Homo sapiens: one gene and its partners. The protein of the gene in region 5 purifies or fractionates together with the protein of the main gene of each other region. This does not show direct contact. Each region holds a gene or a part of one and is shown on either strand. Other genes may lie near its edges. The genes, in order: ANAPC16, NEK2, CDC26, CDC27, C16orf87, MIER1 and ANAPC2.

What was found.
Region 1: the proteins of C16orf87 (region 5) and ANAPC16 purify together in Homo sapiens (affinity purification with mass spectrometry; 2 studies listed by BioGRID and IntAct, with this or other methods). This does not show direct contact.
Region 2: the proteins of C16orf87 (region 5) and NEK2 purify together in Homo sapiens (affinity purification with mass spectrometry; one large-scale study listed by BioGRID and IntAct). This does not show direct contact.
Region 3: the proteins of C16orf87 (region 5) and CDC26 purify together in Homo sapiens (co-immunoprecipitation; 2 studies listed by BioGRID and IntAct, with this or other methods). This does not show direct contact.
Region 4: the proteins of C16orf87 (region 5) and CDC27 purify together in Homo sapiens (co-immunoprecipitation; 3 studies listed by BioGRID and IntAct, with this or other methods). This does not show direct contact.
Region 6: the proteins of C16orf87 (region 5) and MIER1 purify together in Homo sapiens (co-immunoprecipitation; 3 studies listed by BioGRID and IntAct, with this or other methods). This does not show direct contact.
Region 7: the proteins of C16orf87 (region 5) and ANAPC2 purify together in Homo sapiens (co-immunoprecipitation; 3 studies listed by BioGRID and IntAct, with this or other methods). This does not show direct contact.

The regions. Positions count from the first base shown.
Region 1 is NC_000010.11:72,214,707-72,218,811, reverse strand, and holds the start of ANAPC16 (anaphase-promoting complex subunit 16), read right to left. Parts: upstream 2,801-4,105; 5' UTR 2,674-2,800; exon of another isoform or gene 2,536-2,673; intron 1,992-2,535; coding exon of another isoform or gene 1,959-1,991; exon of another isoform or gene 1,678-1,958; intron 1-1,677. UniProt on the Homo sapiens protein: Component of the anaphase promoting complex/cyclosome (APC/C), a cell cycle-regulated E3 ubiquitin ligase that controls progression through mitosis and the G1 phase of the cell cycle.
Region 2 is NC_000001.11:211,672,822-211,676,798, reverse strand, and holds the start of NEK2 (serine/threonine-protein kinase Nek2), read left to right. Parts: upstream 1-1,177; 5' UTR 1,178-1,319; coding exon 1,320-1,415; intron 1,416-2,285; coding exon 2,286-2,503; intron 2,504-3,075; coding exon 3,076-3,316; intron 3,317-3,977. UniProt on the Homo sapiens protein: Protein kinase which is involved in the control of centrosome separation and bipolar spindle formation in mitotic cells and chromatin condensation in meiotic cells.
Region 3 is NC_000009.12:113,269,533-113,272,572, reverse strand, and holds part of CDC26 (anaphase-promoting complex subunit CDC26), read left to right. Parts: intron 1-24; 5' UTR 25-65; coding exon 66-146; intron 147-3,040. UniProt on the Homo sapiens protein: Component of the anaphase promoting complex/cyclosome (APC/C), a cell cycle-regulated E3 ubiquitin ligase that controls progression through mitosis and the G1 phase of the cell cycle.
Region 4 is NC_000017.11:47,137,296-47,140,795, reverse strand, and holds part of CDC27 (cell division cycle protein 27 homolog), read left to right. Parts: intron 1-1,904; coding exon 1,905-2,057; intron 2,058-3,435; coding exon 3,436-3,500. UniProt on the Homo sapiens protein: Component of the anaphase promoting complex/cyclosome (APC/C), a cell cycle-regulated E3 ubiquitin ligase that controls progression through mitosis and the G1 phase of the cell cycle.
Region 5 is NC_000016.10:46,828,381-46,832,503, reverse strand, and holds the start of C16orf87 (UPF0547 protein C16orf87), read left to right. Parts: upstream 1-1,323; 5' UTR 1,324-1,354; coding exon 1,355-1,420; intron 1,421-1,455; exon of another isoform or gene 1,456-1,869; intron 1,870-4,123.
Region 6 is NC_000001.11:66,931,490-66,934,989, forward strand, and holds part of MIER1 (mesoderm induction early response protein 1), read left to right. Parts: intron 1-3,500. UniProt on the Homo sapiens protein: Transcriptional repressor regulating the expression of a number of genes including SP1 target genes. Probably functions through recruitment of HDAC1 a histone deacetylase involved in chromatin silencing.
Region 7 is NC_000009.12:137,174,284-137,178,560, forward strand, and holds the end of ANAPC2 (anaphase-promoting complex subunit 2), read right to left. Parts: intron 3,834-4,277; coding exon of another isoform or gene 3,785-3,833; intron 3,499-3,784; exon of another isoform or gene 1,555-3,498; coding exon 1,425-1,554; exon of another isoform or gene 1,233-1,424; coding exon of another isoform or gene 1,190-1,232; coding exon 954-1,189; exon of another isoform or gene 872-953; coding exon 659-871; 3' UTR 501-658; downstream 1-500. UniProt on the Homo sapiens protein: Together with the RING-H2 protein ANAPC11, constitutes the catalytic component of the anaphase promoting complex/cyclosome (APC/C), a cell cycle-regulated E3 ubiquitin ligase that controls progression through mitosis and the G1 phase of the cell cycle.

The DNA of each region.
Region 1 (4,105 bases), on a different chromosome or scaffold from region 5:
TGAGGTGGAAGGATATACCTAAGTAATTTCTAGCTCTAAAGATTTAGGTTAAATTTTGAATGCTACCAGCAAGTGGTAAATGAGAGTAAAGCAAAACTAATAAACCCTAGATGGTAACTGCTCTCAGGGCAGGAATTAACTGATCACCAGAACCAAACATAACACCTGGCCTATAGTAAGGAAGTAGTTGTTCACTTCAGTAAATGTTTGCTGAGTGAATTAAATATTTCACAGAAACCACAGATTCCTTAAAGGTCATCTAACCCAACTTCCCCATTTTATATATGAAAAAATAAAACTGAGGTGTAGAGACAATTTTAGCTTATCTGCTGTGACATTTTGAAGCAATGGCTTGTTGGTATGTTATTTGTCATGTGCAACGTAAAGCAGCATAATGGGTAAGATTATGAAGCCTCTCTGAGTTCTGGTTTTGCTACTTACTTGCTGCATGACTGTGGACACATCATTTAACCCATTTATGCCTAGTGTTCCATTACTGGAACGCTAAGCATGTGGGAGTTATTTATACCCTACTGCTCAAGGTCATCGCCAAGGTCTGATGCCAAAAATGTAAAAAATTGCAACCTCCGGCATATATATATATATATATATATATATATATATATATATATATATATATATATATTTTTTTTTTTTTTTTTTTTTGAGACAGAGTTTCACTCTTGTTGCCCAGGCTAGAGTGCAATGGCACGATCTTGGCTCACTGCAACCTCCGCCTCCCCCTCCGGGATCTTTTTGTTCCTTAGTTGTCTTATCTGCAAAATGGGAAACAGGTTGAGTACCCTTCATCCGAAATGCTTGGGACTTGGAAGTATTCTGGATTTCGGATTTTTTTTTCAGGTTTTGGGATATTTGCATTATACTTAATGATTAAGCCTCTCAAATCCGAAAATCTAAAATTCAAAATGCTCCAATTAGCATTTCCTTTGACCATCCTGTCAGTGCTCAAAAAGTTTTAAATTTTGGAGGATTTTGGATTTCTGGATTAAGGATACTCAACCTGTAATAACGGCACCTACCTCACACAGGTGTGACAAAGATTAGTTAATACACGTAAAACACTTGGAACAGTTACAGGCTTAGTAAACACTTCATAAATCTTGGCTATTCAAAGTCATTAACGGAGAGTTACTACTGAGTCTTTTTTCCTATGCAGATCCCAGGTTTTCATACTTACTATGAAAAAACCTCATGGGAAAAGTATTAATTCTCTCCATCTAACAGAGTCAGCAAGCTCCCACAGGAGAAAGAATCTGTTCAGGAGGAGGGCCAGTGCCTTCTATTAAGCACTTTACACTTTCCTTTTTTTTTTTTTTTTGAGACGGATTCTCGCTGTCACCCAGGCTGAAGTGCAGTGGCGCGATCTCGGCTCACTGCAAGCTCTGCCTCCTGGGTTCACGCCATTCTCCCGCCTCAGCCTCCCGAGTAGCTGGGACTACAGGCGCCCGCCACCACACCCGGCTAATTTTTTGTATTTTTTAGGAGAGACGGGGTTTCACCGTGTTAGCCAGGATGGTCTCGATCTCCTGACCTCGTGATCCGCCCGCCTCGGCCTCCCAAAGTGCTAGGATTACAGACGTGAGCCACCGCGCCCGGCCTACACTTTCATTTTAAGGTTCAATGATCTTAAGAAACACCCTGCCACCTTCGAAAAGTCTTTCTACCCTCAATGCCGAGCACAGAACCTGGGGCAGTGTTTCCACTGTGCTTCCAGTCCCGAGCATTTCGGATGAATGAATGATGAACAAACGACAGAACGCAGGGCGAGCAGCTCAGCAAAGGTCATGCAGGAGATAGAGAAGCGCTGTGTCATGAGTATTGGATCATTATGGATTTTTTTCTTTCTCATTGTGCAGATCTATTCGCACAACTCTATCTTCAACCAGTTTGCCAGGCCCACCGGAGGTGCCCAGTAAAATTTTGTCAAACAAATACTGATGATGAAGTATCCTGGGACTTGGCCCTGTCAGGTAAGTTGGGGCTGACAGTGGAGATCCTCACAGGAGAGTAACGATGCTTTGTGGACACAGATTGCTGTGTCCGAGCTAAGATGCTTAAACATTTACTTCATGTACGGCAGGGATGACCTCGCATTCATATATTTATGAATATAAATTCCTTTCCTTTCTAACAGATATATGCCTATTTTCTTAAAAAGAGTAATTCCTTAAAAGTTCCTACCCTAGTACAAAGGCAAATTATTACAAGTAATCATTAAATTCCATCATCAACAAATCGTTCCACTTCAAAACAGCTGGATTACAACCCAAACCAAATAGATGCCGCAGCTGTAACGGGGGGGGGGGGGGGCGGGAACGGGGCGGGGGTGGGCGTGGAGAAAAAGTGGCCAGAGAGGGGAGCGCTCAGAACACCAGCGGCTCCCAAGCTAACTCCTAGCCACTTTTCCCACCCAGCTGGGTCCCCAGGAAACTACGCCATCGGCGCTGTCCCACTGCGCAGGCGCCAGCCCTCGGCCCGCATGCGCACTCGGTCAAACCCGGCCTGGGGAAATTTCCTATCGCACGTCTGCTGCAGCAGTCTCCTGTTTCTCCTCCTACCTTCTCCATTTTTCTAGTCCCTGCAGGTAGGATCCTGGGGGTTAACTCCCTTTTCACCAAGCTCCCGAGGGCCCTCGACCCCTCGGCCTCTTACCTCAGCGGCTTTAGCACTTTCCCCTACAGCCCCACCCCCAGGACCAGCCTGAGTGGCTGCGCTCACCACGACGAGGACCGCGGCGTGTTCGCCCCCCAACAGACGGAGCCAGCGGCGAAGGCGGCGTGCGCGCGCCCGTGCCGTGGTGGGCGTGGCCGGGGCGGAGACGCGAGGAGGGGAGCAGAGAACGCGCTCGCGTAGAGGAATTCCGGGTCCTCCTCCTCGCCCTACCTTGGTTTACCTGCAGCCGCCTAGTCCTCTTCTCCTTCTCTTTGATGATTCAGGGCCTCGGCTTCCCTCACGATATTGCAGAAAGACACAGCTTTCCTCTTCCTCTCCAAACCACCTCGAAGCAGGGTTAAGTTGGTTATTCCTCTCTTTCCTTCCGAGCAGTCTCGTAGCGCAGGGCCATGTAGGACAGGTAGATGCTGCATTTGCTGTCTCCGCGACAACTGCCTGTTCTTCCGGAGCTCGTGGTCTGAGGGCCCGACTTTCATCTTAGTCTGTTTTTGTGGGGAACATTTTTTTTTTAAGCTTTTCCTTTGAAAGTCTTTTTTCGTTGAGAACTTTAGAGGCCTCGGGGAATAGGCCACTGGGTTGTGATGTCATCGAGTATTGCTAATGATGTGCCCTTTTCCTCCATCCATGTCGGTTTACCTTCTGTGTTGTTATTTCTCACGAAACCTCTTCTTGGTTCTGTAAGCGCACAACTCATCAATTATTATTTTATTTATTTTTTTGAGACGAAGTCTCGCTCTGTCGCCCAGGCTGGAGTGCAGTGGCGCGATCTCAGCTCACTGCAACCTCCGCCTCTCAGGCTTAAGCCATTCTCGTGCCTCAGCTTTCCCAGTAGTTGGGACTACAGGCGCCCGCCACCACACCCGGCTACTTTCTGTATTTTCAGTAGAGACGGGGTTTCATCATGTTGGCCTGGCTGGTCTCGAACTCCTGGCCTCAGATGATCCGCCTCGGCCTCCTAAAGTGCTGGGATTACAGACGTGAGCCACCGCGCCCACGTTGGCTTGAACATTAGTGTATTTAGTAAGGATCAACTTGTTTTCTTTGGAACTTTTAAGTATTTTGGGCTTCAAGACTATCTAAGCTGTACGTGGTAGGAATATTGGTTGAATTTAACCTCAGCTAGCCTGTAAGGAACCTTTGTTTCCTAAATTATTGATTCATTAAGTGATGTGACCAGAAGCTTGGCTTCGCAGTGAGCGATGTGCATTTTGTTGGGCAGTGGCCTGTGGAAATTGGATTCCCCCCTTCAGCAGTATGTTGGTCTGAGAACCATATTGGTTAAGTTGTTATTTTAACTGTGCTTTAACAGACAACTGGAACTGATTGTTTGGTATGAATTTCTAGCACCTCTAAAAGTACTTAGGGGCTTTTTTTTTTCTGGATGGTTAAGTGTATTAAATATCCCTCATTG
Region 2 (3,977 bases), on a different chromosome or scaffold from region 5:
TTTAAAGAAAACTGGCCTGTTCATGCATTTCCAAATTATTAGCTTTCTGGTAATTTACATATTCCTCTAACAAGCCCTGGATGGAGGCCTCTAAGTCCTCCTTCCCTGGTAAACATGGGGCTGTTCATTTGGCTGGGTAAGCTGAGAACGTTGGTGTGTGGGTGCGTAAAAGAGAATCTGTGTTCAATGAAGTATTGTCGATAGGGTTAATTGTGTATTTGGCACACATAAACGGGACAAGACGTGTAAAGTACTTGGTAGGAGAGCGACAGTATTTCTCCTTTTTTTTTTTTTTTTGGAGACTGGGTGTCACTCTGTCGCCCAGGCTGGAGTGCAGTGGCGCACGGCTCACTGTAACCTCTGCCTCCCAGGTTCAAGCAATTCCTCATGCCTCAGCCTCCCAAGAAGCTGGGATTACAGGCCTGCAACCCCATGCTCTGTTACTTTTTTTTTTTTTTTTTTCATTTTTAGTAGAGACGGGGTTTCGCCATGTTGGCCAGGCTGGTCTTGAACTCTTGGCCTCGAGCAATCCGCCCGCCTCGGCCTCCCAAAGTGCTAGGATTATAGGCGTGAGCCACAGCGCCCGGCCTAATTTTCGTATTTTCAGTAGAGACGAGGTTTGCCCTGTTGCCCAGGCTGGTCTGAACTCCTGGGCTCAAGCGACCCACCCACCTCGGCTTCCCAAAGTGCTAGGGTTACGGGCGAGCGTGAGTCACCGCGCCCACCCGGGAGTCTGTATTTCTAATTTGTATTCAGCTCTCAGCATATCCTCAACGTGACCCCACCCAGGTTCAGGGTACTGGAACCTGAGCGAGGAATGCGTGTGCCGGGGAGAGTAGGTAGTGTGAGGGGCCAGAGTGCAAAGGTCAGAAGGCATCTGGTGGAAGCGGTGTGCAAAGAAGCCTGAGGGGAGGACCTTAGATCTCGGTTACCTTGGCGATCTCTATCAGAGGGTTAGAGTTGCCGAGAGGCGCCAGCTGCCGCTTCCTCTCTCCCGCCCTCCGTTTGGCTTAGCTCGCCGGGTTCTCCCACAGGTTAAAAGCAGACGCCGACGCGGTTGCCTAGTGACACTTTTCCCAAAATGCCTAGGGTATTGTTGTGTTCTTCTTAGCCAATGAGAGAGGCGAAGCGGCCCACCGCCTGCCAATAGACTGCGAGATCAGGGCCCGCGACGGTTAAACGGGGCCCAAGGCAGGGGTGGCGGGTCAGTGCTGCTCGGGGGCTTCTCCATCCAGGTCCCTGGAGTTCCTGGTCCCTGGAGCTCCGCACTTGGCGGCGCAACCTGCGTGAGGCAGCGCGACTCTGGCGACTGGCCGGCCATGCCTTCCCGGGCTGAGGACTATGAAGTGTTGTACACCATTGGCACAGGCTCCTACGGCCGCTGCCAGAAGATCCGGAGGAAGAGTGATGGCAAGGTGAGCGTGGGACCTACCCTGCGCCTGCCCCTGCTTAGGTTTCGTCGCCTCGGGGCGAGCGCCCTGCGCCACCGAAGGGAACCGACAGGGCTGAGGAAATGGGTGCCCGGAAGACTAAACCGTCTTTCCTGGGTCTGCATCTGACAGCCTGTCCTGGGTGGCTTAAAGGATGGGAGACCGCTTCTTTTGATATATGTATTTCCATCTTTTCCCGTTTCTCTCCCCATTTCTCTCTTTCTCCTGCTTTGGCTTGCTAAGGACCTTCCATTGGTGACAGGTAACTAATTCCTGAGCTGTTTTTAGAGCTCTAAGAGTGGCCCTCTCAGGCACAAGAAAGGGGCAGGACTACCAGAACCCGAAGCTTTGTATCTGCAGTCAGACTCCCTCAAAATATCCATTATTAGGATTATTGGATTCATATTTCCCAATGTATATAGGTAGAACTTTTACAGAAAGTAACATTGGACAGGAAACTGCCTGGCTGCTGATGGAGGGATCTTTACCAAGGTGTCTCATCCTGGGAAAACACGACTGGGGTGGAATGGGGCAGGGACTTTGACCACCTTCACCCCAATTTTGACTATAGTACCTTTTAGCCAACTTCCCACTAACCAACTGAGGGTAGGGGTTGGGGGAGTCCTCATGTGCCTCATTCCCGTTTGTCTCCCCACAACATACATTTACTGCTTAGAACTGGAGGAAGATTATGGAAGTAAACTCACAGCTCCTTAAGTTCATTGAACTAAATTAGATAATGACCTTGATTGTAGGATATAATTAAAAGGGAGGTAATTTGTTAAATCTTGGAACTTTCATTCTTTGTTTTTGAGCATAATGAGTTCATTCATACCTTGGAAATTCTTATTTCAGATATTAGTTTGGAAAGAACTTGACTATGGCTCCATGACAGAAGCTGAGAAACAGATGCTTGTTTCTGAAGTGAATTTGCTTCGTGAACTGAAACATCCAAACATCGTTCGTTACTATGATCGGATTATTGACCGGACCAATACAACACTGTACATTGTAATGGAATATTGTGAAGGAGGGGATCTGGCTAGTGTAATTACAAAGGGAACCAAGGAAAGGTAAGCATAATCTTTTAAAAATGTAAGCTGAAATTGGTCTAGTTTCATTTATTTTAAGCATCTTGTTTTAGGATCAGTAATATGGAAGAGTGTATTTGTATTTGTTTGGTAGGTCCACAGTACTTTAGAAAATTCCTGGTGAATCAACACCCATATTTTATATCAAAATAACAATTTATAGGCTGAGTGTGGTGGCTCACACCTGTAATCCCAACACTTTGGGAGGCCGATGCGGGAGGATCACTTGAGCCCAGGATTTCAAGACCAGCCTGGGCAACATAGTGGGACCCTGTTTCTACAAAAATTAGCCAGGTATAGTGACATGTGCCTGTAGTCCAAGCTACTTGGGAGGCTAAGGCAAGAGGATTGCTTGAGCCTGGGAGGTCGAGGCTGCAGTGAGCCATGATCGTGCCACTGCATTCCAGCCTGGGTGACAGAGTAAGACCCTGTCTCAAAAAATATAAATAAATAAATAAATAAATTCCCTATTTGTACACTGGATAATTTATATCATCCCATCTTGGCAATGATTTTTTTAGAAGTTATATGCTGTATAACTGCTTTGGTTTTAGGCAATACTTAGATGAAGAGTTTGTTCTTCGAGTGATGACTCAGTTGACTCTGGCCCTGAAGGAATGCCACAGACGAAGTGATGGTGGTCATACCGTATTGCATCGGGATCTGAAACCAGCCAATGTTTTCCTGGATGGCAAGCAAAACGTCAAGCTTGGAGACTTTGGGCTAGCTAGAATATTAAACCATGACACGAGTTTTGCAAAAACATTTGTTGGCACACCTTATTACATGTCTCCTGTAAGTATTTCAGAATTTAGCTACTTTTTAAAACATCTTTTATTTTTGTTTTCTTGTTTGTTTGTTTTTGAGACAGAGTCTCGCTCTGTTGCCCAGGCTGGAGTGCAGTGGTGCGATCTGGGCTCACTGCAATCTCTGCCTCCCAGGTTCAAAGGATTCTCCTGCATCAGCCTCCTAAGTAGAGTAGCTGGGACTACAGGTGCATGTCACTATGCCTGGCTAATTTTTGTATGTTTAGTAGAGACAGGGTTTCATCATGTTGACCAGGCTGGTCTCGAACTCCTGACCTCAAGCGATCTGCTCACCTCAGTCTCCCAAAGTGTTGGGATTACAGGCGTGAGCCACCATGCCCAGCCAAAACATCTTTTAATGTTAAGCATTCTGAAGCAGGGAAATTGAGTTTTCTGTTTGTTTAGTAATATCTAGTAGCCAAGAATTGAAAATACTGTTATATTTTTCCACATGGACCACCAGACCAATAAAGTCTATATCAGTTTTTGTTTGCTGCATGAGTTATGTGCATTAATGTAAGTATGATGAAGACAGATTCCTAGTCTAAGGTTTGCGCCGTTTGTCATCTCTCACTGGGTTCAATTTTTTGAGCATTCATGCAAATTAAAGCATATTCAGTTCAAGCTTTTATGGAATGACTATGATGCAT
Region 3 (3,040 bases), on a different chromosome or scaffold from region 5:
CCTCCTCTCTTTCATTTTTAACAGCTAATAGTTCACTGGGTTTGGCCCTTAGTGTTGACTTCAGTATGCTGAGACGGAAACCAACACGCCTAGAGCTAAAGCTTGATGACATTGAAGAGTTTGAGAACATTCGAAAGGACCTGGAGGTATGAATACAACTTTGTGTTTTTTTGAGATGGAGTCTCGCTCTGTCACACAGGCTGGAGTACAGTGGCATGATCTTGGCCCACTGCAACCTCTGCCTCCTCTGCCTCAGCCTCCCGCGTGCTGGGACCACAGGTTCATGCCAGCACGCCCAGCTCATTTTTTTATTTTTAGTAGAGTTGGGGTTTTGCCATGTTGGGGCCAGGCTAGTCTCAACTCCTGACCTCAAGTGATCCATCCACCTCAGCCTCCCAAAGTGCTGGGATTACACGCGTGAGCCACTGCACCCAGCCATGAATACAACTTTCAAAGCTTAAGGAATATTTAAGATAATAATTCTTGTGTGGGCACAGTGGCTTACATCTGTAATGCCAGCATTTTCTGGCCAGGAGTTTGAGACCAGCCTGGGCAACATAGTGAGACCTTGTCTCTATGTTGGGCAGGGTGGCGCATGCCTGAGCTACTCAGGAGGCGGAGGCGGGAGGATTGCTTGAGCCCAGGAGTTTGAGGTTACAGTGTGCTATGATGGCTCCACTGTACTCCACACTGGGCAACAGTGAGACTCTCTGTCATACATAAATATGTATATACACACACATACATACACAATAACTTTAACTTCTGAACTGCAGACTCTTAAGCCAACAGCTTATTTGAAATCTCTGTTTGGATGCTTTACAGGCATCTCAAACTTCATGTATGTCTCCTGTGGCTGCTGTAACAAAGTACCACAAACTTCATCGCTTAAGACAACAGAAATTTATTATTTCACAGTTTTATAGGCCAAAAATTAGTATTGCTGGGCTGAAATTTAGGTGTCAGGAGGGCCACATTCCCTATGGAGGATCTAGGGAAGAATCCATTCCTTGGCTCTTCTAGCTTCTGGTGGCTGCTGGCATTCCTTGACTCATGACTGTATCACTCCAGTCTCTGCCTCCAGAGTCATATTGTCTTCTTTTCTGTCTGTGAAAACTTCCTCTGCCTCCTTCTTATGATATGTGTGATTGTGTTTAGGGCCCACCTGACTAACCCAGGATAATCCCCCCTTCTCAAGATCCTTAATTTAGTCACACCTGCAAAGGCCCTTTTCCCATATAAGGCATTTATAGGTTCCAGGATTAGGACCTGCTAGCTTTGGGGGCCATTTTTCAGCCTACTACACTTAACATGTTAAAAAAAGAAGAGAGAAAAACTCTTGATTTCTCCCTTGAACCAGTCGTCCCTTCCATTCTTCCCCAGTGTTTCCCATCTCAGTATTGATTCAGTTCCTCAGGCCAGAAACCTAGCAGTCATTCCTGAGTCCTCCCTTTCTCTTACGCTTTATATTCGATCTGTCTGTAGACCCTTTGATTCTACCTTCAGAATATGTCTGGAATCCACCCATACCTTTTCATCTCCACTGTTACAGTCCTGCGCTAAGTAACCGTCTTTCCCTGTATAATTGTAGTGGCATCCTAACTGGTCTTCTACTTCCATTTTTGTCTCTTTCAGTGCATTCTGCATCCAGTATCAAGAATGATCTTCAGAAATTTTCAAATCCTGTCATTCCCGTTTAAAACTCCTCAGTAGTTTTCTGCACTTATAACAAAATCTGAATTCTTCACCATGGCCTACAAGATTTTGTATGTTCTAGTGCCTCTCCAGATTCATTTTGTGCCATTCTTTGCCTTGCTCTCTATACCCTAGCCACATTGGCTCTCTTTCATTTCCTTGAACATGCCAATCTATTTATCACTTCCATGGACTTTCCACATATTATTTCCCCCTGCCTGGAGTGCTCCCTTTCTTCCAGTCTTCATTCAAATGTCAACTCTTCAATTTAAGAGGCCACTTTTGACCGTATCCAAGTTTCATGTGTCATTCCCGTCCATGCTGCCTCCATCTCTGTAGGCTCTCACAAAGCACCATATTTTTTTCATAGCATTTATTATAATTTACAATTTTTTTTATTGTAAAATCATTTACATTAGGGACGTTGATTGCAGAAATCATGTCTGTTTGCTTCACCATTGAGTTCTTACCATCTAGTTCATAGTAGGGGCCCCATATGTATTTTTAACTGTGGCCTTGCTACATGGTATTAGATGTCCATTAATAAGACTTAAATTCTTCAGTGGTCTACAGAATAAATTCCAAATTCCCTAGCATGGCATATGAGCTCCTTGTGAGCTGGTCCTTGCTTATCTCTCCACTTTCACTGCTGGGTTATCTTTAATCTCAGTGCCTATACACAGTGTTCCCTTTGCCAGAAAAGCCCTTTCTTTTTCTTTGCCAGGCTAACTCTTACTCCTTCCAGCCCCCAGCTGGGTTAGGCTCAACCTTATCCTCCTGTGCTAACCTCTCTCATAGGCACGGTCACTCTCTGTTGTAATTGTCTGTTTGCTTTTGTTTTCCCTCACTGGGCCATAAGCTCCTTGAAGTCAGGGATTAGTATATTTCTCTCTGCATCTGTTCCCTGCAATACCAGGTCCAAAGGAGGGCTCAATGCAAGTCTATTTTCATTTGCTGTCCTAGTAGGTATCTTGTACTATATGGCAGAGGACAGTACGTTTTGCATATATTCACCAACAGCTTTATTATGTATTGTATATGCTTCATATTAAGACTAATAACTTAGATTTCTTTCCCCCTGCTTCATCCCAAGAGACTTTAGTGTTCTCTAAGTATCGTAATTTTTGCTTTCTAAAAACTCATATATTATTAAGCATGAGCTTTAAAGTATGGCTTAAACTTCAGTTGTAACGAATCTCATAAAATGCTAGCATGCTGAACTTTGACTCTACAGTCAGCTCACTATTGAGTTAGTCTTTCCACTAAAGACAGTTATCTAGTGGGTTTTACCTTGTTTTAGAGTAACTTAGGAAGCAGGGACAGTCATGCCCTAAAGTGAAACCAG
Region 4 (3,500 bases), on a different chromosome or scaffold from region 5:
AGACAGAAAGTCTTATTCATTGCTACAAAACCCATGTTTCGATTATGGTCCTTTACTGGTATGTAGCATATACACAGACAGGCAAGAGCTGTGTTCGGAAAAGCCATTTAAAAAATTATTTCTAATTTATTGTTTCACAGCTACTTTAACATAAATGAATTTTATTGTTTCCCCTAGTTATAGTGGTGACCCAAATATTTAATTAAAGAAAGCCTCTGTTTCAACTTAATTTCTGAGTTTTTTTCCCATTTTTCTTTTTGTCTATGCCATAATCATTTTTCAGAGGAAGCAACAGATTCTGAAAACTTTGAAACCAAAAGGTACCTACCTATATTTGGCTGGTAGGTCTTTTATCTTGTTACCATGCCTGAATGAAAAACTTGGCCAGGTGTGGTGGCTCATGCCTATAATACCAGCACTTTGGGAGGCCAAGGAAGGGGGATCACTTGAGCTCAGGAGTTGGAGACCAACCTGGCCAATGTGGTGAGACCCTGTCTCTACAAAAAAATGAAAAAATTAGCTGGGTGTGGTGGCACTCACCTGTGGTCCCAGCTACTTGGGAGGCTGAAGTGGAAGGATCACTTGAGCCCTGCAGGTCAAGGCTGCACACTTACCTTTATAACTTTTAAGAGATTGCAAGGAAGTTACAAATCGTTAAGCTATTCCTATATATCATATGACCACTTCTTGGAATTAAGCACTCAGTTTTAAAATGCTCTTATTTTCTGTCATACTCATTTCATTAAGAATAGTCCAGATATTCCTTATTATAAACTAAACTGTGAAAATTTCTTTTCCTTTCTTTTTTTTTTTATTACCTAGACCTTTTCTGGCAGCTGAGAATTTTGAACTTGGTAAATTGATAAACTAGGAAACTGATTTTATATAACCTAAATCCTCAAACTTTAGAGGGAGAGAAACACAGTTCTGGGAGCTGTGAATGTGATGAGGAAAAAAATTGATGAGGCAGCTGAGGAGAGACCCTGAAGTCAAGAGAGTGCTGCAAAGGAAAGGATAATTAATAGGTAGGGCCTATGATTCCTAGCAGACACAATATTGGTGTGTATATTCAGGGCTCAATAGGATTTATAACCATAGGATTGATAGCCAGCTTAACCTGTTTCTTCCCTCTAAATTTTCTGGCACAACCTCTCGGTAAAAATTGTTCAAAAATAGATTTTATGTTACAGAAATCATTCTTCCATCATCTTTCCTAAAAGAGTTATTCTGGCCAGGTGTGGTGGCTCATGCCTGTAATCCCAGCACTTTGGGAGGCCGAGGCGGGTGGATCACAAGGTCAGGAGATCGAGACCATCCTGGCTAACATGGTGAAACCCTGTCTCTACTAAAAAATACAAAAAATTAGCCAGGTGTGGTGGCAGGCGCCTGTAGTCCCAGCTGCTTGGGAGGCTGAGGCAGGAGAAGGGCGTGAACTCGGGAGGCGGAGCTTGCAGTGAGCCGAGATTGCGCCACTGCACTCCAGCCTGGGCGACAGAGTGAGACTCCATCTCAAAAAAAAAAAAAAAAAAGAGTTATTCTGTAATGCCATTATTAAAACTTGGAAATGAGGTTTTTGAGAAGGAAATATTGACTTTTCTTTTGAATTGTAGCTTTGTATAGATTTCTCTTCGGTCTTTTTGGTAGAAACTCAAATTTCCTTTTCAGAGTTCATGTTCTTACCATGGCTTGTATATAAATACTAGGTTGACTGTCAATATGGTTACATCACTATTTGACCTGCCATAGTAGATTGCTGAATTTGTCCTTGTGTTAATACTCATTCACATAAAAACCATAATACAAGGCAGCATTTAGATCCTGTGAAGATAATGACCAGGGCTTTCCCTGTGTATATATATAAATTGTATCAACTTGTTTTCTCTTACTAGTTTTTTTTATTTCAGGCTGAAAGAATATTCTCAGAGGTTAGAAGGATTGAGAATTATAGAGTTGAAGGCATGGAGATCTACTCTACAACACTTTGGCATCTTCAAAAAGATGTTGCTCTTTCAGTTCTGTCAAAAGACTTAACAGACATGGATAAAAATTCGCCAGAGGTATGTTAACCAAAATACTTTGCTTATATAGTTACCTTTTTGATCACCCTCAACAGATAGAGATGAACCAAGCAATTCAAACACTATTTAGTGTCACCCACGCTTATTTCTTTTTTTTCCTCTCTCTCTAGTCAGGGACTCAGAGAGGAAGAGAAAGTCCTAGAATGTGTGGTGCAGATTCACAAATAGAAAAATCACAAAGCAGCTATTTCATTCAGGATTTATCGAGATTTGACTACGTTAAATTTGCTGTTGTCACCAAGATTAGGGTTCGTTGAGCAGAAGTTACATAGATTGAAAAAATTAATAATTTTAAATTAAAATAAATTAGTATTGTCATTGTAAGACATAGGTGCAATTAATGTACATGCTCTAATCTTGTAAGATTGTATTTCATTGCATCTCAAAAATATTTAATGATACTTTTGTAACATATCTAAGCTTAGAATTAAACACAGTCAACTCCCATTATTTGCGGTAATTCTGTAGTCAACATGAACACTGAATTAGTGCTACTGAACCAATGTTCCTGGGAGTGATGGAGAGTTTGAAACAGAGATAGATTGTGGATTATAATCTTGAATCCTAAAAATAACTCATCCTGGTAGATCCTATTTTCTTTACAAAAGAGAGAATGCTGCTGGGTGTGGTGGCTCACACCTATAATCCCAGCACTTCGGGAGGCTGAGGCAGGCGGATTCCTTGAGCTCAGGAGTTCCAAGACCAGCCTCGGCAACATGGCAAAACCCTTCTCCACAAAAAATACAAAAATTAGCCAGGTATGGTGGCTGGCATCTGTGGTCCCAGCTGCTCGGGAGGCTGAGACAGGAGGATCACTTGAGCCTAGGTGGCGGAGGTTGCATTGAGCCAAGATCACACCACTGCCCTCCAGCCCGGACAACAGAACAAGACCAGATCTCAAAAAAAAAAAAAGAGAGAGAATGAGGTTCAGAGGTGACTTGCCTGAAGCCATCCTACTTAAAAGTGCCAGCAGTGGGATTCAAATTCTGTCCAACTGTCCCCAGAGCCAAAGCTTCTTGCACTACACTAAACTAGCCCACAGAGTTTCTGTCCCTGGTCATCTCTGCATGAGAGCTAAAACAAGAAGGTAGAGTCACATTATTCAACCTCAAATGAGAACATACCTTTTGATGACTATGAAAGCACTGCAAGTATTGATTTTGGTTTTACAAATAAATTTTAGCAATCAGACAAATTCACAAATATGGAATCTGTGAATAATTAGAATTGAGTATCTACTGAAGCTCCTCCATTTTTGTCTTTCTGTTCTAAGTTGAGGCTTGATTTTAGTCATAGATTTGGTTTTAGAAAAAGTAAAATTTTAATTCTGTTTGGTTTTTGTTCCCATTTTTTTAAGGCCTGGTGTGCTGCAGGGAACTGTTTCAGTCTGCAACGGGAACATGATATTGCAATTAAATTCTT
Region 5 (4,123 bases):
ACTCATAACTTTGCTTTAGTTAACAATTGTTGAATAAAAAGTTATCAGTGGAATAGCCAGTCTCTGTAATAAATGCATATTGGTAAATTTTCTCTGAGCCAAGTGTACAGTTTGTAAATTTTCTTTCTGTTATGTTTGTTCTGATTGTTTATTAAGTATAACTTTGGGTCTGTCAAATTAAATATTTAAAAGTAAGCTTACGTTTTGCATAGTTGTTTTTAAATTTCACTTTTTCTTTCTTTTTCTTTTTTTTGAGACGGAGTCTCGCTCTGTCGCCCAGGCTGGAGTGCAGTGGCCACAATCTCGGCTCACTGAAGCCTCAATCTCATAGGCTCAAGCGATCCTCCCACCTCAGCCTCTCTACTAGCTAGGACTCCAGGCATGGGCCACCACGCTCAGCTAATTTTTAAAAATCTTTTACTTTTTGTAGAGATGGGGGTCTCGCTATGTTGCCCAGGGTGGTCTGGAACTCCTGGGCTCAAGAGATCCGCCCTCCTCGGCTTCCCAAAGTGCTGGGATTACAGGCGTGAGCCATTGCGCCCAGCCTCGAATAATTTAATTTTAATGTTAATTTAGTAAGTATCAGTCACGGACAGATTGGAAAAAGAAAAACATCTGATCCCTCATCTTGATAGTGAGTAGCACTGGTTTACACAGCTAGGCTGCTCCTTGAAGGCTGACACTGCATTTTATTCAAATTTTCCTGACAGTGGGACTTAGGCAATTATATATTGAATAAATAAATGAATTTTCACTCTGCTGCTGGGTCCAGTGGTCTCATAAAATGTCTATCATAATTTCTCAATGATTAGCCTTGGTAACATCTACTTAAGTTTATTAAATGCCAGGATCCACGCTACGCCCTTCACCATTCATTCCCCAGCCTTCGCTCCCACGGTCTCTGTGGGGATGGGGCGTGCCCAGCACTACGGCCCGCCCTACCTATGCATTCGTTGGTCGAACTCGACGCCCGTTACTGCCGAGTCCCGCCCAGGCCTTGCCCCCTCGTAGTCGGCCAGGCCGAGAGGAGGCGTGGCCACTGCCGCGCCGGGGCGGTCTGGCGGAGGGGGGGGAGGTCTCCCCTCGTCTCGTGATACTCTGGGCGAGCTCGCGGGCGGGCTGTGGGTCGCGAGCCGCCGTGGGAGCGCGTGTCGCGGTCCCCAGGAGCCGCCGGCCGACGCTCCGCCCCGCCCCCTTGGCGCCCAGGTCCCGCGCGAGCTCGCGCACGCGCGCGCGCGCACCCGCCAGAGGCTTGTTTGAGGCCCGCGGGGACTGGGCGGGCGGAGGCCGGGCTGCCGAAGTGTGAGGGGAGGAGCCCGAGCCGTCGCTGCTGCCGCCGCTAAGGGAGAGGAGCATGTCTGCAACTCGAGCCAAGAAAGTGAAGATGGCCACCAAATCATGCCCCGAGTGCGACCAACAGGTGGGTGCCGGGGGCCGGGCGCGCGGGCGGGCGGCAGTGGCTTGGCGGCCGTTGTCTGTGGAGGGGGGCCTCGCCGGGCTCCCGGAGGCCGAGCGGTGGGCAGATCCTGGGGCCCGCCGGCGGCGGCGGGGATCCGGGGCCGGTCGGGCTGCACCGAGGGGTTTCCCGGGAAAAGCCCGGGGCCGTGGCCCGCCAGCGTCCACCTGGCGGCGGCCAGACGGCCAAGCCCCTTCTTGCTGTGTCCCGGCCACTGGAGGAGCGCGCCTTTGGTGGGCTCACCGGGCGGCTGTCTGGAGCCCCAGACTCTCCTCGCCGGCGGCGGTGACAGCGGTGGGAGCCTGCGGGCCGCAGCCCCGGCGAGAGTGTGCCGCACGCCCGCCTCCGAGGCCAGGCCCTAGCTCCGAGAACCCCTCCTGCGGCCGGGGCGGCTTTGTTCCCGGTTCCGACGGGTGCGGGGCTTCCCCAAAACGGCCCCTCCGCGACCGGGGCGGGCGCCTGAGTGGGACAAAGGGGGCCGCGTGTAATGATTTTGAGTTTCGGCGAATTTGGAGATTTTTTCCCCTTCCTCATCTATTTATTATATTTTTGCTGTGCAATCGCGAATCCTGCCTTTACATCGTTTTTAATGGGTCATGATTGAATAAAGCCCCTGTTTAAGCCCTTCCTCCTTTTTGGGCGCTCCTAACTTCCCCACCCCTCGCAGTATCCACTGTTACAAATTTGGCCTGTCTGCTTCCAGATCTGTATCCCTGTCTGTCTGAATGTCTCTGTGTGTCTCTCTCTCTCTCTCTCTCTCTCTCTCTCTCTCTCTCTCTGTCTGTCTCTCTCTATCTCTCTATCTCTCTATCTCGTTTCTTGAATTTGAAACGATTCCTTTCTACATTGAGTTCATGGTGTAATAGTTGTAATTTAAAACATCTCATTTCAGTGATCGCTGTGTTGAAGCGTGTCTCAATTCTTTACTGGAATAATAGACATTCCTTTAAGCCTTAACATCTAATGAGTTAAAACTACTTCAGTTAAAACCATTCGTAAGGCCCTCGTTTGTTACCAACATGTAGATCTGGGTGTGTTTTTTCCTTTTCCACTGAGTGGATTTTTTCAAAATGACTACCTTTCTCTCCTCCCCTCCCCCCACCGCCTTTTTTTTTTTTTAAATCAAGAGTAATTTGAAATGGCTGGAGACTTTTTAATAAGCTGATTTTAGTGCATTTTTCAAGGAGAATTCTTGTAGGTTTTTCAAATCTTTTAACAGAAAACATGTTACATGTTTTATTAAGTATCCTTTATGGGCTGTAGTAAAAATGCTTATCAGAAAAAGGTTGTGCAAGAAATACAGTGTAGGAGCTATACCAGTATGCAGTATAAAAACAGTTTAGTCATGTTTTCCAAAGAGTTACTTTCATTCTTACTACTGAACTAAATTTGTTAAATTTTGACAAAACTGGACTTTGCAATATGACTCTTTGCGGGAGATTATTTCAGTGTTTAAATCATTTCCAATTATTCCAGTTAATTGTGTAGAAGTGTAAGGTTTACATGGTATGCGTTATGCATTCCAATTTCTGTAAGGCACAAGTATTTGCAAATCCTGACTTTGTTCTAATTGGCATAAAGCAACCTTTTGGGAAAAATAGCCACTTTTTATGGCTATTTTTATATAAAAGAGCAAAGGATAATAAACTTATAGGAGTTTCTGAAAAACTGTTCAACAAAACAAGATCAGCGTTTTATTTGGAAAGATCACATTCATTTTGTTATACACCCCCTCCCCCATATTTATTCTTTCATATAAAATCAGCTTACCCAGCTTTGGCTGCCATAACAAAAGCATGATTATGTTCTGGTGAGGGCTCTCTTCTTGGCTTGCAGATGGCTGTCTTCTTGGTGTCCTCACATGGCAGAAAGAGGGTCAAGCTCTCTCCCTTTTCTTAAAAGGTCCCTAATCACATCATGAGGGCCCCACCCTCATGACTTAATTTAAACCTAATTCTCTCTCAAATGGCCCATCTCCAAATACCATCACATTGCGGTTAAGGCTTCAATATATGAATTTGGATGTCGAGGGGTGCATAATTCCACCCAGAGCAAACTAGTACATAATTTAATGAGTTGGTTTGTTTTGTCCTTTATTCCAAATACTTAAGTGAATGTAACATACATAAGGACTAATTAAAACTTTTGGTGATATGAACCTGATGTGAAAAAATAATGGATGAATTTTAGCTTTCTCATTATTTAAAAGTACTAGCTTCTTTTAGTTATAAGCCAGAATATGATTATAATCCAGAAAGCCATTTTCTAAACATTAGAATACTGCTATGATTCTAAGTTGCCTAAAAAAAATTAAATTCGAATTTAGGTATAGTTTATAAACATAAATGTAAAATCTTTAAATTTGAGATTTCCCAGTTGACTAGATTTACTTATGTGGGTGTGTAAGTTTGAAAAATGGGTACAGAGATCAGCAAAGAAGAAAAAGCTAGATTTTCAACTGCTTTGTAACATCTCCTTTGCAGGCTTCTATTGAACATATCATTCTAAAACATCTTAAACCACAGTCCTTTTCATTTTCAAGGGGTTTCATATCCATCAATCACTCAAAATTACTGAGCCATTTTGTGTGCATCAGTGCTCAAGATTCTTGTCAGTTTTCTGGTATCTTTTGTGTATGCTTCTGTTTTTGCCTTCATTTTTAAAAAA
Region 6 (3,500 bases), on a different chromosome or scaffold from region 5:
TTCATGGTTTCACAGGCACCCCAAAACAGATTTAGGAAGGAGGGTGAGATTTTGCTGTAGCAGACAGGACTGTTTGCTGCGAGTATTCTTTTTAAAACATTCAATATCTCTAATTTACAACTAAATTTAGATCTTAGATTTATTTTCATTTCTTTTGCTCTTGGTGGTTAAAGAATTGTATTTCCAGGCACATGAATTGGAGAACGTAGTACTTTCTGTTTCCCCAAAATGTGACTGCGTTTGTTCCAGTAGACTGAGAATCGGTACCTGGATTTTAGTCCTGGTGAGGTTCTTATTCTTAAGTGTTTGTTTCCTTCATGTTTAAGGAGTTGTGTGTAGCTGGATTTATACATTTTGTCAGTTAGTGTCTTCAGTGGACCCCTTTCAGTGAATATCGGGTAAGCAGCAATGTGCTACATAGGTAATGTGGTTTCTTCTTTCATGGTGTTGCTCAGGATGGTTTGAGCTTTGAGGTGTGTAGTCATATACTAAGGCAAGATATTACTGAAGGAAAATAGCTTATACAGAGAAATTTAAGTTAAAAAACTTAAATTTAAAATTTCTGTGTTTTTAAAAAATAAATTTTATTGCCGAGGGAACTAAAAAATCTAATATGTAAAAGAAATTATGTTAACTTTTTTGTTTTAAAAATTAAAGATGGTTGCGTTATTGTAAGATAAAGGAAAAAAATATTTTGATTCACTAATCATTTCCTAATATTTTCTAATGTATGTTTTAGTTTTCTTAAATATTTTATCAGTTGGAGAATGGAATGTTTTGTGGGAACGCATGGATTGTTCAACTGCAAGAAGGAAAGAACTGGAATTTTGTTTTTATTTGGTTTTTAGTGTTTATTTAATGACCTGGTATCTTTAAACAATTTATCTTCTATATTCTTCAGTTACTTGTAGATAGTTTCATGTATAGTGAATTGGGGAAGAGTTAGAGGAACTTTCGTGATCTGTGTCCTACAAAAAAATCTAAGACAGGTGAAGAAGTGAAAAGTACAATTGATTTATAGTTTTCCTGGCCTCAATACTTGAATAATTATGACGATTTTTGAGACCAGTGGTTTTAAACAATTAGACAAAGGAGAAATGCTTGGTTGGCTTTTACTTTGAGCTCTCAGTAGATTCATTCTTTATGAAGCCAATATAAAAGCATGTGATTAAATAATCCAGATGCTGAATTATTGTGCTTTTGATCAAATAAATCTGAGGATTTAAGGATAGCTTGTGAAGTAACAGTAAGTGCAAAGCAACAGTATATATCTATTTGTTAAATCTGAGGGGGAAAACAGGTTATTGAAGAAGTATGTCTCCAGAGAAAAATGTAGGTATTATGCTTCTGGGCTTTTAAAAAAAAAAATTGATGCTTCCTACAAGAGCATGACCCTGACCATGTTTTTCCAGAAAAATATTTAATTCTTGAATAGAAAGTGCTTTAGATGAGAATAGGATATACTAATTTTTTATATTTGATCTGATTATCTTAGTCCATAATAGGAAGTATATATTGGTTCTTCAGTTGTGATAACATTAAAGCCGTATTTAATGTACTTAGAATAAATAGCATATGCTCCCTTGCTTAATACTTTTTGGCAATATTTCTCATTGCTTATTATCCCTTAAAATTATTTACCAACCTTCTAAAAGGACGCTCTCCTAGTCACACTTGAAGGAAATTACAGGATAGTTGCAGTTTTACTAACTGCAAAAATAAGAGGAAAATGAGAGAAAAAATGAGAGGAAGAAATAGTTAATCCTTTGGGTTTTATAAGGAATGTACTAGGGACCTTTGGGAACGAACAATTTGTCTTGTATTTTAGCGTTTGTAAACACGTAAGGGACTTTCTTCTCAAGGAAAAAAATCCATGGACAATTCAAGACCTGTCTTTTCACCTAGGCCACATTTCTGTGATATAAAGAGAAAATTAATGGATTTGCTTCTTTCTATTTAAGTATTTTAGTACTTTCAAAGAGGGTATATAATCTGTTTATTCACTTTCACACCTATCCATTTCTCTTTAAAATGGACTCCTTGCTTAGTATTTTTTGAGTGTATTTGGATTTTTTTAACGAAGGATTATGTTAAATGTTACTTATGAAAACATTAATTTCTACTCTAAGCAAAATGTGTTTCACTGCAGTGAATTTAAGCTTCAAATAATTCTCGACACTAATAATGAATTTTTTTTCATGTTTATACTTCAGAGCTATTAAGATTTTAAAAGTAGTCAAGATCACCAGTGCGTGAGAGTCCTAAAAATCTTAATTCATTGGCAGTTAAGAGTTAGGGTACTTTAATAGGTGGGAAAGGTTTGGTGGGAGAAACAAGTGAATTACTTTAAGATAATTCTGGTAAGTGAGACTAACCAGTTTTCTAAATAATTCAGAAATAAAACACTGCCATTGAAGCTTAAGCATGTCTTTATGAAAAGTAATCAGCTATCTAGAAATGCCTGCCTGGCTTGATGTTCATTCAAAATTCATTGCAGTGATTAAATTGTTCAAGTACCAGTCATTGCTTGGGGCTTGTTCTGTTTGTCTTATTCTGTGGCTTAGAACAATAACTTATTATGTAGGTATGAAATTCATGAAGTAGCACCCCAAAAAATTGTTTTTGCAAATTGAGATTTTTTTAACAGTCCTAGATTTAAAAAAATAAATTTAAACATATCCCATGCATTTAGCTGCATACTCCTTAGTAGTGTTAGGTTTCTAGAGCAATTTATAATAAAAGTAAAGTTAGGTCTTGAAGAAATCTAAATCTTTTGATCATAGAGAAAATGAAAGTGAGCAGAGAGTTTACGTAGTTTGTCCTAGGTCGTGCAATTCATCTATGGCACAGTTTAGACTGGAACCCAGCCTTCTGTATTCCTAGATTCCTAGTGCTTATTTTCTTTTTCTTTCTTTCTTTTTTTTTTTTTTTTGAGACAGGGTCTCTCTCTGTTGCCCAGGCTGGAGTGCAGTGGCGCAAATCATAGCTCACTACAACCTCAAACTCCTGGGCTCAGGTGATCAATCCTTCCCTCAGAGCCTCTCAAGTAGCTGGGACTATAGGCATGTGCCATCATGCCCGGCTTTTTTTTTTTTTTGTGGAGACAGGGTCTCGATATGTTGATCAGACTGGTCTCGAGCTTCTGGCCTTAAGTGATCCTCCTGTCTTGTGCTGGGATTATAGGCGTGTGCCACTGTTCCCAGTCCTTATTTTCTATGATATCATTTTACTTCTGAATTATTAATACTGTAGTAAATTGCTAATTTTAATTTCAGTACATTCTTAACCTTTTTATACCCCAGAATTCCTGAGAGTAATAACAAAGTTAAGTAACTTAATTTTATTGGAGGAGAGGGATGGTGAGCCAGCCCTTGGCACGGTAACCATCTTTCACCCTAAAGTAGGACCCCTCTTTCCAGGCTTCTATCCCCATCTCCATTGCTGTGAGAATCTCTGACTTAGAGTCTACATAACTAAGTAGATGACGGCAATACTTAAAA
Region 7 (4,277 bases), on a different chromosome or scaffold from region 5:
TGCCCAGTCCCTCTGGCCACCAGGGCACAGCCTTCGGCAGAGCCTCACTGCCAGAGACGAGGCGTGTTGGCCTAGAGGTCATTCGCCAGCCTCAGCAATTCCAACCGAACCCGCACAACGTCCCAACCTCGCCCGAGACCTCCTGGCCGAGCGTGTGGAGGTGGGCACAGGCTGAGCAGAGGGTGACCCCAGGGCTCCTTCTAAAGGCCAGAGGCGCAGGAATGGAGCTGGAGGTCTGGCGGGTAGCAAGCACTAAGCCCTAGGACGTGGCTGCCTGAGCCGTGGCCCGGGCGTGACGTGGACCTTCACGTGCCGCTCCCTGAGCACCCTGGGTCGGGGGCGGCCCGGGATTCTCTCAGGAGGCTACATTCCCAGTGCAGATGTGTAGGCCTAGGTGGCCCCTCACCTGCTGCTGAGGAGCAGGCCCTGCCAGGCTGAGAGAGAGGCCCAGGCTAGAGGAGGATCCTGGGGGGCCCCACAAAGCCACCAGGACAGAAAAGGATGATCTGACTTGCTTTAATCTGCACACTGCGGGGGTGGGGGTGGGCATGCTCCTCAGCAGTGCATTCTGGGACACGGGCGGGCGGGGGCTGGCACGGGAGGACGAGAGCACCTGCAGGGCAGCGCCTGGCGGGCGGGCGGGCGGGCGGGCGATGTGTCAGCTGCAGTTCTTGGGCAGGCGGTAGACGCCGGCCGAGTAGACGAGCTGCTGGTCCCGCACCTTCTTCTGCAGGTAGCCCTGCAGCTCCTGCAGGTCAATCTCGGCCAGTGCAGGCCCAGTCACCACAAACATGCGGAGCATGTTGTAGATACGATCCAGTGAGAGGCTCTCCAGGTTGGTCAGCATGGCCTGGATGTACGTCCAGAAGAGCTGCGGACACAGGCCAGCCCCCGTCAGGCACCTGCAGGCCTCGCCCCCGCCCCCTGGCCCCCCGTGGGGCCTGCACGCGCACCAGCAGCTCCTCCTCCTTCTGGTCGGCCTGGGAGGCCATGCCGGAGTCGCTCTCGTCGTCACTGTCAATGAGCACCATGTTGTCCCGGTCCTGAGGCCGCTCCTCCTCAATGACAGAGAAGGTGCCGGGGGGCTCCTCACGCAGCACACCCTGCTGCAGCCACACGGACATCCGCCGCCGCAGCAGCGCCACGGGCATCTTCACCGCCTTGCTCAGTTCCTCCAGGGTCCAGCTGGCTGCGTGCAGAGTCACCGGGACGCTGGGCAGCCTGGGCACGGGCTGCACCTCCCCTGCCTCCCGTCAGCCGAGAGGTCGGGGGGCTCCCGGGCCACCCTGCCTTGCCCGTGGGAAAGGGAAGGGTGCCGCCTGCTGGCGCAGCTGCCCCAAACCACACCCTCACTGGGGAACAGCCCCTCACCCACAGCTGGGCCGTGTGGCCGGGGCAGGCCAGCTAGGGGCTGGTGGGCTCACCTTGGTCCTGAAAATACAGCAAGATCACCGCCTGTACTGGGGTGACCGCCACAGACAGCGTGCGGTCGGCCAGCTCCACGTCCATGGTCACCAGGCCCAGGGTGTGCTTCCAACTGAGGGTCCGCATGGCCTAAGGAGGGCCAGGGTCAGCACGGGCAGCTCGGCTGCAGGGCGCTCAGGCCCGTGGGCTCTGCCACCTGGTACCAGTGAGAAAGGGGCTCCCAGAGCCACCTGCCCCACCCCACCCTGGCAGGCAGGTGAGCAGCGAGAGCACAGGACTGGGTGGGGTCCCCACCTGCTCAGCCACCATGGAAGGGCAATGGGGCCAGCATCATAAGGTGTGTCCCGAAAAGGCTACAGGGGCCTCCTGACCCCCAGTGCTTGGAAATGTGGCCATATTTGCAAACAGGGTTGATGCAGATGTAACTGAGGTGCATCCTAACCCAACTGACTGGGGTCCTTCTAAGAAAAGGAAAGATAGGAAGACACAGGCAGGCGGGGAGGGGGCCACACGAAGACAGAGACCACCTGGAGCAACGCGGCCACAAGCCAAGAAACACCAAGGGCTGTGGCAAACACCAGAAGCTGGGGGGCAACGGAGGTCTCTAAGAGGGTTCAGAGGGAACGGGGCTGCCAGTACTTTCATCTTGGACTTCCAGCCTCCAAAACTAAGACAATCTATTTCTGTTTTTTAAGCCACCCAGTTTGTGACACTTTGTTACAGCAGCCACAGTAAACGAACAGATTTTGGTACCAGGAAGGGCCAGGAGGGGTGCTGCCAAAACCTAACACCAAGAACTGTGGCAGCAGCTTTGGAAGTGGGTGATGGGGAGAGGCTGGAAGAACTGGTGAGGCCTGCACGACTGCTGGTAGAAAGGCATGAAGACAAGCCTGGAAATGGCTGGAAGAGGAGAGCTGCCGCCGTCTTGGAGAATGCACACAGCATCACAGACTGGATGTCGGCAGCAATGCCGACCCAACAGGTGCTTCCAGTGAGGTCTCAGATGGAAATGACCGTGCTACTGGGAACCGGAGGAGGCAGCAGAGAGCTTGGCTGGCTGCTGCTCTGCTGTTGGGTGCGAAGTGGGACCTGCAGCTGATGAGCCTGGACATCAAGCTGAGATTTCCAAGCAGTGTGGAAGGTGCCACCTGGCTTCTCCTTGCTACTTATAGCAGAATGCAAGAGGGAAACAATCAGTGAGGCAGGGACCATTAAGCAAAAAGGCACCAGCCCTTGGGGATCTGAAAAATACTCTATCCAGGCAGCTCTGAGACGTGGCCAAGGGTGTGGCTGGACCAGGGTTTGCTAGACATGAGGTGTGACCTGTGTATCCAACTAACCATCTCAGCAGCAGACAGGGACAGGTGGGGCCTCCGGGAAAGGGCTGCGGACCCGCCTGTCTGAAGGCTTCGGCACTGGTGAGCTGCATAAGCCAACAAGGTGTGAGAATTTTACACCCGCAGAAGTGCTGCCAGGCTGGAGTGAAAGGAAGGCAGGCTCCAAGAGCAGAGCCGCCGAGGCCAAGGCTGACGGAGCAGGGGGCCAAAGAGGATTCGCAGGCCTGGAAGTCAAGTGGAATTTCGGCTGCTGGGTTTGGACTCGCTGTCCTTTTTCCTCCCAGTTTTCCCTTTTGGGGTGGGAATGTGTATGCTTGTCTTACGGCTGAACTTTTGAAACAGATCATCTGTTGGCTGATTTCACGGCGTCCCAGCTGGAGGAATGGCGCGCACTCCAGCCTCACCTGTACCTTGTTTAGATCTATTTACGTAGAGGAATGGCGCACACTCCAGCCTCACCTGGACCTCGTTAAGATGCATTTACAGGCTGAGATGTGTGTGGAACTTTGTGTGGATGGTAGTTAGATGAGATTTTGGACTTGGAGTTGATGCTGAAATGGTGAAGACTTTTGGGGACACTGGGGCTGTCACTTGCACGTGGGAGGGGCCCACCATGGGGCAAATTGTCATGCACTGAATTGTGCCCCTCGAAAAATGACACATGAACCCCTAACTCCCGGTGCCTCTGATGAGATCTTATTTGGAAATACGGTCATTAAAGATATAATTAAGATGACGTCACCCTGGAATAGAGAGAGTGTTCTTCTAAGAGGGAGATAGGAACAGAGACACGGGGGAACATCACGGGCGACGCGGCAGAGACCAGAGCGAGGCACCCACAGGCCCCGGAGCTCCTGGAGCCCCCAGAAGCTGGAAGAGGGGAGGAAGCAGCCTCCCCTAGAGCCTTCGGAGGGCCCTGCTGACCCTGACTTTAGACTTCTGACTTCTGTAAAATGATATGTTTCTTTTAAGCCCGCTGGTTTGTGGTACTTTGTTCTGGTAGCACTGGGGCACTGACACACCTGCTCTGTGGGCCAAGGGCTCCTGAGTCCTTCCAGGATCCGGCAGCTTCTAATGGAAACAAACCCCTCTTTATGGACAGAAAATGGAAGTGGAGTCAGTGGCTTGCTAGGTCCTAGTTCTGGCTCCAAGGCCATGACCTCCACAAACGCCGCCACTGGTCAGCCTGCCGCAGGACACATGCAAGGGCTCAGGGGTGACGCTGTGGGCTGCATGGCCAGCCACGTGTCCAACAAGGTCGCTCGGCCAGGAGCTCTGCTGGTGGGACCTCTCAGCACAGCCCCGGGGCCTCCCTGAGCCACTCCTGTGTCCCACTGAAGTTAAGACAAAGGGCACTAGAGTGTGGCTGTCCCAGCACATCAGGCCTGAGCAACAGGAAGTGGCTGAGTCATGCCTGGGACCCAAGGCAGGACCCTGGAGGGAGGCCATTGGGGCCTTGCCTGGAAGCAACGCTGGAGAGCCTGAGGCAGCCAGAGGGGCAGGGGGAAAGGGACC